Homo sapiens: one gene and its partners. The protein of the gene in region 1 interacts with the protein of each later gene in a pairwise test. Each region holds a gene or a part of one and is shown in the gene's direction. Other genes may lie near its edges.

Region 1 (3,500 bases):
GGAGGTTTACTGATGTCCAAAGTCATGAAGCAAAATGCCAGGGAATCTTGTCCTGGACTGCCAAACACTAAAAAGTCTGTGCTTTCCTGCCCCAAGAAGCCCCACTGGTCAACAGTTTGGCAGTATTCTCATTCATAATTGTCACTGTGCAGTTGAGGACATGTACAGGTTTTCTGCAAAAAATGGGTTAGCATCAGGAGACATTATCTCTTCGCTTTCTGGTAGCCTCAGGTAACTGATGGGTTTTTTCTTTTTTTTTTTTTTTTTGTACTTATTGTGGTTCTTGCTGTAAGGTTGGGAGGGAAAGTGAATTTAATTTCCTTAAGCCTAACAATGACAAAAGACTTGTATATATGGTCAGTTTGGGGAGTCAATTTTTTCTTCTTTAGAATGTTGCTGTTAAGTATTTACATTAATAATGATGTACCTATGTCATATAACACTTTTCTTCTTTTTAAAAGGCCACATCTATCCCAAATTTCTCTTATATGGGAGCTCGCCTGTGTAATTACCTGTCCCATCATCTGACAATTAGCCCACAGAGTGGCAACTTCCGCCAATTGCTACTTCAAAGGTCAGTGTAAATGTGAAATTAAAGGAAAACTACTTCTAAATATACTAGAATTTGACCATTCCTCAGACCATATATTATAAAAAGCTGCAGGAAAGAATAGGGCAGCCTATTCTTATGTGCATTATATTTGAAGTTTATAGTTCAGTATACCAGTCTTTTTTCTGTAATGGTCTGTGAATTTGGTTTTGTGTTTAGAAAGATCTTTCCTTTTCCAAGATCTTAAAAATAAACACTTATGTAATTCTTATTACTTTGGTAGCTTTGGTTTGAATAAGGATCTAATTTTATTTAGATTAGAATAAAAGTGAATAATCCATTTTTCCTTATTGATTTGAATTGCCACTTTTATCACACTTGCATTATTTGGGTTTTGATTCTGGATTTTCATTCCATTTATCACTTATTCTGTTCCTTTTTATTACCATACAATTCATACAATAGCTATTAAAAAGCTTTTTTTTTTTTTTTTTGAGATGGAGTCTCACTTTGTCTCCCAGGCTGGAGTGCAGCGGCACGCTCTTGGCTCACTGCAACCTCTGCCTCCCACAGGTTCAAGTGATTTTCCTGCCTCAGCCTACCCAGTAGCTGGGACTACAGGCACCCGCCACCATGCCCGGCTAATTTTTGTATTTTTAGTAGAGACGGGTTTCACCATGTTGGCTAGGCTGGTCTCAAACTCCTGATCTCATGTGATCCACCCACCTCAGCCTCCCAAAGTGCTGGGATTACAGGCATGAGCCACCCTGCACTGCCAAAAGCTATCATTTTTAAAAATATCTTAGGGTAATTAGTTTTTTGTTCTTTTGTGGGATTTTTTTTTTTTTTTCCGAGACCGAGTCTTGCTCTGTCACCCAGGCTGGAGTGCAGTGGCTCAGTCTTGGCTCACTGCAACCTCTACCTCTGAGGCTCAAGCGATTCTCGTGCCTCAGCCTCCCCAGTAGCTGGGATGATGGGTGCGTACCACCATGCCCAGCTAATTTTTGTATTTTTAGTAGAGATGGGGTTCACCATGTTGGCCAGGCTGGTCTCGAACTCCTGACCTCAAGTGATCCGCCCACCTCAGCCTCCCAAAGTGCTGGGATTACAGGCGTGAGCCACCACGCCCAGCCTGTCAAATATTCTTTGCTATGCTTGTTTCGTCTAATGAACTTTAGAATCAGTGTTTGAAATTACACAAGTCTTGCTAGTATGTTAGATATTTTGGAGATAATACTCAATTTATAAGCTAATTTAGAGAAAACTAGTTTTCTTATAATTTGATGTCTTCAGTAACAAGGTTATCTTCAAGTTTATTATAGTTCGTCCATTAGTTTTTTAAGTGACTTTTAATGATTGCAAAGCATTCCATTGTGTGGTTAAACTGCAGTGGAACAGAATAAAGATTCTAGAAGTAGACCCCAGAGACCCTTGAAAATTCAAGCTTTTGATAAAAAGGATAAATTGTGCTGGTAGCATAACTGGATAGTCATTTGGGAAAAAAAGATGAGTTCCCATCTCACTCTCTGTGCTGAAATCCCAAATATGTCAGAGACTTATTAAAAGTGAAATGATAGGTGGGGCACAGTGGCTCATGCCTGTAATCCCAGTACTTTGGGAGGCTGAGGTGGGCGGCTCACGAGTTCAGGAGATTGAGGCCATCCTGGCTAACATGGTGAAACCTCATCTTTACTAAAATAACAAAAAAAAACCCTAAAAATACAAAAAAAAAAAAAAAAGCTGGGCGTGGTGGCGGGTACCTTTAGTCCCAGCTACTTGGGAGGCTGAGGCAGGAGAATGGCGTGAACCCGGGAGGCGGAGCTTGCAGTGAGCAGAGATCGCGCCACTGCACTCCAGCCTGGGTGACAGCCAGACTCCGTATCAAAAATAATAATAATAATGAAAATACTTGGAATAGCGCCAAATAGATATAGATACAGTTTGGAAAAATACAAATGTCAAAGTTATAAAAAGATATCTAACCATACTTATAATTAAAGAAACACAAATTATAGCTTCTGTAAAGATTCAGAGTGGGTACTTGTAGGCGGTAGGACGCCAGGAATGCTCACTCATATTTTTCAGTGCTTCTCACCCCCGGCTGTGCCTTAGAGTTACCTAGATACTTAAAGCCGAGATCCTGTCTGAACCCTTTGAAATTCTGGTGTAATTAGACGAGGTGGAGCTAGGACATGGTTTTTTAAAGCTTCCCAAGTGATTCTACTGTATAGCTATGATTGAGACCCACTCTTCTCATTGACTGTTACCCACCATATGTGCTTCTGTAGTACTGTAATCCTGTCAATAATAATGTAGAGAAATACTAGTGAGCTAACAAGTAAAAAGCAAAGCATAATTCTGCTACCTCTTTAAAAAATATATACATACTTTGAAAAAGATGGAACGGAAGTTACCTTCACAGCAGTTATCTCTTGTTTTTAGTAGTAGTGCAGGTGACTTTGTTCTTTATACTTTTTCTGTTTTAACCTTTCCAAAATAAACATACATTGCTTTTATAATTGAAAATCTTTAGCTTAAAAATTTGACTTTTCACCTAGTCAATTATGTAGGTATTTGTTTGCATGTACATAATCATATCCTAACGTACAGTCTGTCATAGCATTTTATGAAAAAAAAAGTTATTTCATCAACTCTTACCGACAAAGTTGTAACAGAAAAGCAGCCAACAGGTGTTTTTAAATAACTGATTTGGCATTAATTAACTGATCTCTTCCATTATTAACCAGAATGTACTATCTATAAATATCCCAACTTTTTTCTGATGAGGAATTTAATATGTACAAGATGATAACAAATATCTTACCACATTTGACTTAAACAGAAGATGTTGCTCAGTTAATATACCTCGTAAACATTGGAATTGGCCACGTAAGCACAGTAAGCTGTGCTGGGGTTTCGTGGTTGGCAAACTGACCCAGAGTCAATTACT
Region 2 (3,800 bases), on another chromosome or scaffold:
ATGGCTCAGTCACGCCCTTGGATATTTACGATGGGAAAGACTTCTCCTTGATGGCCACATCTTTGGATGAGAAGGTAGTCTCCATCCACCAAGACCCCAAATTCAAGTGGCCTATCATTGCTGCGGAAACAGAAGGACAAGGCACCCTGGTCAAGGTGGAAATGGTTATTAGTGAATCCTGCCAGAAATCCAAGCGGAAGAGTGTGTTAGCTGTTGGAACGGCAAACATCAAAGTTAAATTTGGCCAAAACGATGCTAACCCCAACACCAGTGACAGCAGACACACAGGGGCAGGGGTTCACATGGAAAACAATGTCAGTGACAGAAGGCCCAAAAAACCCTCGCAGGAATGGGGGAGTCAGGAAGGACAGTACTATGGCAGTTCTTCTATGGGACTCATGGAGGGACGGGGCACCACGACAGACAGGTCCATCCTGCAGAAGAAGAAAGGCCAGGAAAGCCTTTTAGATGACAACAGCCACTTGCAGACCATCCCCAGCGACCTCACCAGCTTCCCAGCCCAGGTGGACCTCCCCAGAAGCAATGGGGAAATGGATGGGAATGACCTTATGCAGGCATCCAAAGGGCTGAGCGACTTAGAAATTGGGATGTATGCTTTGTTGGGAGTCTTCTGTTTGGCCATTTTGGTCTTCTTGATAAACTGTGTGACCTTTGCATTAAAATACAGACACAAACAGGTTCCCTTCGAGGAGCAGGAAGGGATGAGTCACTCTCATGACTGGGTTGGGTTAAGCAACCGGACAGAGCTGTTGGAGAATCACATCAACTTTGCCTCCTCGCAAGATGAGCAAATCACTGCCATTGACAGGGGCATGGATTTCGAGGAAAGTAAATATCTCCTCAGCACAAACTCCCAAAAAAGCATCAATGGGCAGCTGTTCAAACCTTTGGGACCCATCATCATTGATGGGAAAGATCAGAAAAGTGAGCCCCCAACATCCCCTACCTCAAAAAGGAAAAGGGTAAAATTTACCACCTTCACCGCCGTCTCCTCAGACGACGAGTACCCCACCAGGAACTCCATCGTGATGAGTAGCGAGGATGACATTAAGTGGGTCTGCCAGGATCTGGACCCTGGGGACTGCAAAGAGCTGCACAACTACATGGAGAGGTTACATGAAAATGTGTAAGCCAGACACACACAGACATTGGTTCTCACTCACCTTTCAGCCTTTAATTCCAGGATGTGTAGCAACGGTGCCCCCGGAAGAGAAACAAAGCAGCAGGACAAAATAAGGATGACACTATCCATACAGCCTCAGCCAATGACCCCGGCTCGGCGGCGAGGCCTGGAGTCCGCATCGACGCACACATTCCAGAGTACAGTGTCTTGCTTAAGAGGTTTATCATGCATGGCAAGATTTTTAAGACTTGAAACAAAAACGAGTTCTGAATCACTGAGCGTCTGAGAGCGTCCAGGAAAGAACAGCCTCTCTCTCTCGAATCAAAGCAATTTGGATATTGTAAAATCCACATGGCTCCAATATTCAATATTGCAGACTATGGAAGAAAAGTACAACTCAGGTGGAGCATCCATGGATCGCATCCATGGATCAATGGGAGGAAGCGTGTCATCGAAACTGGAGCAGCACATCTTGCTGTGAGCGCGATCACAGGCAGTCCAGTGCCGCCGTCAGCTGTGGGAGGCATGATTGTGAGTCATTGTCTCTCAAAGGCTGGGCCAGAGCTGTCTCAGATCATGGACAGGCCAAGGAAGTGGCTGACAAGGACTGAAAGGGAACATGTGGGCTAACAGGCCACAAATACCTTTGTAACTACATGCCAAGGACAAACACATGGACGCAAATCCTCTGAGCCCTTCAGGGTACTTCTTTATTTGTAAACTAAGGATACTGGGCATAGAATTTGAATCAGGTTCAAAGAACCACGCTCTTTTGATTCATATCAAGTTCACAATGTATCCATTTCTATTCCTCCACTGCATTGCCATCCTCCCCAAAGCCGTTGGTCACCTGTGGGTGGGGGAGGGAGAGGGCAGTTTGTAGTATTTGCTGGGTCTTTTTTCTCCCCCTGGGTTTTGTGTCAACTCCCAAGTGACATTCTGTAGAGAAGCTCCCCCCGCAACCTGGGCATATGTCCCACGCCGTCCGTCTTTGAAGAGGCTGGTCTCTAGGCATGGGCGGTAGTCACGGTGAATTCCATACCAGGGGATATACATTCCCTTGCTTTACTAGAAAGAAAACAGGGCCACTTGGGATGGGTCTTTCACTGTTCATGGCAGATCTCCTGTCCAAAGATGTGGCCTCGAGGCTGTTGAGACAAATCGGGGTGCCTGTGTGGAACGTGCAGGGCGTGTGGAGTTGGGGGGGTTCTGGGTGTGAAAGTGGTGGATCCAGCAGGAAGCCCAGCCTCACACACACCGGACAGCACAGAAACCTTCTTCATCTTGGAGGTGCGAAGGGATAAGGGGCATCAGTGCATGTGGTGAAGATGCAGGTTTGCAAGCACTTGGTCCTGCAGTCAGCCCCGAAAGGTTCAGCATTGCTTAAGACCAGCCATGACTCTGGATATCCCTGAATCCCTTCACTTATGAAGCCTATGAAGATGGGGGCAAGGATACATCAGAGAATTCCTGCCTCATCTCACGCTCACTCCAAGGTAGAGAATGGTGTGTTGGGTGATTGCCAGCCAGATAGGATCCTGCAAAAGATGGTCGGGGGCAGCGGGTGGTGGGCAGAAGAGGCCGTGCTGTTGAATTGATCTTCTATTTTTCCCTCTGGTCATTTTCTCTCTCTCTCTGCTCTTCAGTTGTCTGTTTTCCAGTCTCTCTGTGTGTCTGTCTCTGTATCTCTCTCCTCCTTTGAACCTATCTTCTCCCTGCTTCCTCTCCATCTCATCTCTGTAATTTTGAGTGTGTGTCTTTACTCCTTCTTCCTCTCCATAGAATTGAATTCTCTTTAGATCATGTGTGTGTAAATTTCACCAGTTTACCCTCCCAACCTTAGCCCTCTCCCCTGCAACTGTGGTGCTCTTGAGACTGAGGTTTCTGCAGCCAGTAAGTCACCTGCTCCTGTCCGCAAGCTTACCTACCTTGTTTGGTTGGGTGATTAAGCTGTCACCCCTTTTCAATGAGAATCCTTTGCTTTCAGTAACGTCCTCATATTTCTTTCCATTCTTACCTGTGTCATGTTCTGTTGAATACTGCAGCCGCTGCCCGCTTCCAAATCCATCTGCGTGTAGAATGTACTGTAGATTGTAAGAATGTAATATATATTTATAAACTTACTGACTGTAAATATAAAGTTTGCATTCAGTGGCTTTATGGCTGTCCTTTGTCTTCTACACGCTGACCCCCTCCAAGGGGCTGGCATCAATTGCAAATGGCTCTGCAAATGCTGCAGCTCTAAATGAAATGCTGATTGAAGGATCCCAGCACAATCCAGTTCCACCTTTACATCGTGTAGTGCTGCTCCCTGCATTGAGGGGATGTTGACACGTGATGACAAAGTGCATTGTGTACCAAGTATCTCTCCTCCAGGACCTGAAAGGATTTGCAAATAAATCACACGTGCAATTCTCTCCTAAAAGCCTGCTGACTGATGGTGGTAAGTAAGTGGAAACTGTGGCAGGCAAGCATGCATTCCAGCCTCCTTTTGGGCTGAGGTGAGGAAAATTCTCTGTCCTTCCTTTGGGTCTCGAGTGTACATACAACAACTCTGGACTGGGTTAAAAAGTTGATTGTAGATTCCTTTATCAACTGCAGCCCCAAGACAATTCTACGAAACAAGAAGATGCATGGAATCCTTATATTCATGCAA
Region 3 (3,113 bases), on another chromosome or scaffold:
CTCCTTCCCCAGGGTGGAGGGGGCAGGCTCAGCTCCTAGCATTCTCCCATATGGGACCACCTGGGTCTGCATTGCCTATTTCCCTTCCAACGAAGGACTCTTGCTCTAGCCTCTAAATCCCCAGCCATCGGTGCTGCTGTCTTTGAGACTGCCTTCCTGAGATGTGGGGCGGTCAGGAGGTACAGCTTTCCTTTTGCCCTTTTCAGTGTAAGCCGATCTGGGTGGGTGGAGAAGTGGGGCACTGAACCCTTGATTCTCTCCCTCCCCTGCTAGCCTCCTAAAGTTCTGACCCCATGGAAAAGCAGCAGGCAGGTTATGTAACAAGGAGGTTTTTCTCTTCACTGGGGAGACCCTGGAGCAGAAGGGAGTGAAGTTGGGCAGCAGGCAGGCTCTAGAAGAGAGAAGCCCTGAAATAAGTGCTGTCTCTCTGCAGGGCTGGAAGCATCTTCTGGGACTCAGAAAACTAGTAGATCTCCAATTAAGCCTGCTGTAGGAGACCCAAACAGGGCCAAATTATACTCCACCCACTTTATTTTGTCTTCTTTCCCTTTTTCTGGACTAAGGGGGATGATATTCTTTCATGACCTTCTGGCAGACAGTCAGGTCCCAAGCTTCCAGCCGCAGTACATTCCCCCTGGGAGATGGGTGGATCCTCAGGGATTGAGGATGGTATTCCCAGGGCTTTAGGGCTTAGGCCTATTGGGGAAGGAAAACACCATGGCTCACCATCAGCTCTTTCTGGCCTACACCAGGATCTCCCTACTACGATAATGTCCGTCCACTCTGCTACAGCGACTCGGATGCAGTATTACTATGTTTTGACATCAGCCGTCCAGAGACAGTGGACAGCGCACTCAAGAAGGTAAGACTAGATCAACTCTCTAATCTCTAACTCAGCATGAGGACCAAGAAGGAATCGGGACCTTGTCATGAATGCCCTCTTGTATAACATCAAGAAATGGAAGCCAGGGAAGGAAGAGATTTGCCCAAGGCCACACCATTAGCTACAGCTCTGGGACTGGAACTTGGGTCTCCTTACCCCACTGCCTCCCGCCCTTTTTGTTATCCCATGCTGCCTTGCCAGAGGCCCCGCAAGGGAGGGTGGTATTGAAGACTCAGGAAGCAGAGGACGGAGAGTCAGAGAACCTTTAGGTGATACGGTATGAGGGTCAGGCATGGGACCTTTTGGAGGCAGCTTCTATAGACCCTGATCCCAGTCCCACTGAGAATGGGCAAGCCAGGCAGGTCTGAGCTGAGCTGCTGGTATGAAATGCTTAGGTCTGGGCAGATCCACCAATGCTGAGGAGTCCTAGGAAACCTTGTGTATCTAGCATAGTATAGAAGATGCTGGGATCATGTTCTTCCCTTGAGAAGAGACTGGTTGGCTTCCCCCTGGCATTCTGGACTTGTGAGGCCCTTTGGGGTGAGGGGGCAGATCCATGCCTATATGGTTGGCAGAGAGTGGGAGGAGAATTGCCCTTGTGCCCTCTCTGGTGACTGAGCCATAGACTGGGGGAACAGGCTCCTGGGTCAGCACTCTGGGGGCCCCAAAGGCCTCATGGGCAGGAAAATGATGTAATTAGTGCAACGGTGATGCTGTGACTCAGAGGGAGGACTGGGCTGGTGATGAGTGAGGTGATGTGTGTGACGTTGCCAGCCAAGCTTCTCCTGGTATCTGTCTGCCACTAACTCTCCTTCCTTCCTCCTTCTCCTACCCTTCTTCCTGCTCCACCCCTCAGTGGAGGACAGAAATCCTAGATTATTGTCCCAGCACCCGCGTTTTGCTCATTGGCTGCAAGACAGACCTGCGAACAGACCTGAGTACTCTGATGGAGCTGTCCCACCAGAAGCAGGCGCCCATCTCCTATGAGCAGGTGTGTGCGCATGCAAGTGCATGTCGTGGGGTGGAGTGAGGAAGGCTAGAGGCAGACAGCTTGAAATATGGCCCTGGCTCAAATTCTTCCACTATGGCAAGAGAGAATTGCTGTTATAATTAGCAAATGAGTCACCTGGAGAGAGGTGGTGGGCACCTGCTTACCCAGATGTATGCTGTCAGTTAGCAGGTGAGTTATTCCTGTGTGTGCCCACATTTCTAAGATTGTATTCTGACCACCTGCGTTAGAATCATTAGAGGTGTTTGTTAGAATTTCACACACACAAAAAAAAGAGGCCAGGTGCAAGGTGGCTCATGCCTGTAATTCCAGAACTTTGGGAGGCTGAGGCAGGAGGATAGCTTGAGCCCAGGAGTTTGAGATAAGCCTGGGCAACAAAGCAAGACTGTCTCTACCAAAAAAAAAAAAAAAAAAAAAAAAATAGCTGGGTGTGGTGGTGAGTGCCTGTAGTCACAGCTACTCAGGATGCTGAGGTGGGAGGACCGCTGCTTGAGCCCAGGAGGTTGAGGCTGCAAGGAGCTGTGATCATGCCACTGCACTCCAGCCTGAGTGACAGAGTGAGACCCTGTCTCAAAAAAAAAGAAAAGGAGGAGGGGCACTGGGTGCGGTGGCTCACGCCTGTAATCCCAGCACTTGAGAGGCCAAGGCCGATGGATCACTTGAGCTCAGGAATTCAGGACTAGCCTGGCCAACATGGCAAAACGCTGTCTCTACTAAAAATACCAAAAGTAGCTGGGTGTGGTGGCATGCACCCGTAATCCCAGCTACTCAGGAGGCTGAGGCAGGAGAATCGCTTGAACCTGGGAGATGGAGGTTGCAGTTAGCTGAGATTGTGCCACTGCACTCCCACCTGGGCGACAGAGTGAGAGACTCTGTCTCAAGGAAAAAAAAAAAAAAAAAAGGCCAGGTGTGGTGGCTCATGCCTGTAATCCCAGCACTTTGGGAGACGGAGGCAGGTGGATCACTTCAGGTCAGGAGTTCAAGACCAGCCTGGCCAACGTGGTGAAACCCCGTCTCTACAAAAAATACAAAAAATTAGCCAGGTATGGTGGTGCACACCTGTAATCCCTGGGCAACAGAGTGAGACTCTATTTCAAGAAAAAAAAGTGTGATCTGCCTAGGTTGGAGTGCAGTGGCACAATAGTTGTTTATGCAGCCTTGACCTCCCGGACTCAAGTGATCCTCCCTCCTGTCTCCCTAGTAGCTGGGACTATAGGTATG

The links. The genes of interacting proteins can lie anywhere in the genome.
Region 2: the proteins of PAIP1 (region 1) and TMEM132D interact in a two-hybrid assay, tested with the Homo sapiens proteins (one large-scale study listed by BioGRID).
Region 3: the proteins of PAIP1 (region 1) and RND1 interact in a two-hybrid assay, tested with the Homo sapiens proteins (one large-scale study listed by BioGRID).

The regions. Positions count from the first base shown.
Region 1 is NC_000005.10:43,540,078-43,543,577, reverse strand, and holds part of PAIP1 (polyadenylate-binding protein-interacting protein 1), read left to right. Parts: intron 1-461; coding exon 462-574; intron 575-3,500. UniProt on the Homo sapiens protein: Acts as a coactivator in the regulation of translation initiation of poly(A)-containing mRNAs. Its stimulatory activity on translation is mediated via its action on PABPC1. Competes with PAIP2 for binding to PABPC1.
Region 2 is NC_000012.12:129,071,226-129,075,025, reverse strand, and holds the end of TMEM132D (transmembrane protein 132D precursor), read left to right. Parts: coding exon 1-1,151; 3' UTR 1,152-3,300; downstream 3,301-3,800. UniProt on the Homo sapiens protein: Regulate neuronals morphology via inhibition of the WAVE regulatory complex (WCR), a complex that controls F-actin cytoskeletal dynamics.
Region 3 is NC_000012.12:48,859,758-48,862,870, reverse strand, and holds part of RND1 (rho-related GTP-binding protein Rho6 precursor), read left to right. Parts: intron 1-752; coding exon 753-862; intron 863-1,739; coding exon 1,740-1,874; intron 1,875-3,113. UniProt on the Homo sapiens protein: Lacks intrinsic GTPase activity. Has a low affinity for GDP, and constitutively binds GTP. Controls rearrangements of the actin cytoskeleton. Induces the Rac-dependent neuritic process formation in part by disruption of the cortical actin filaments.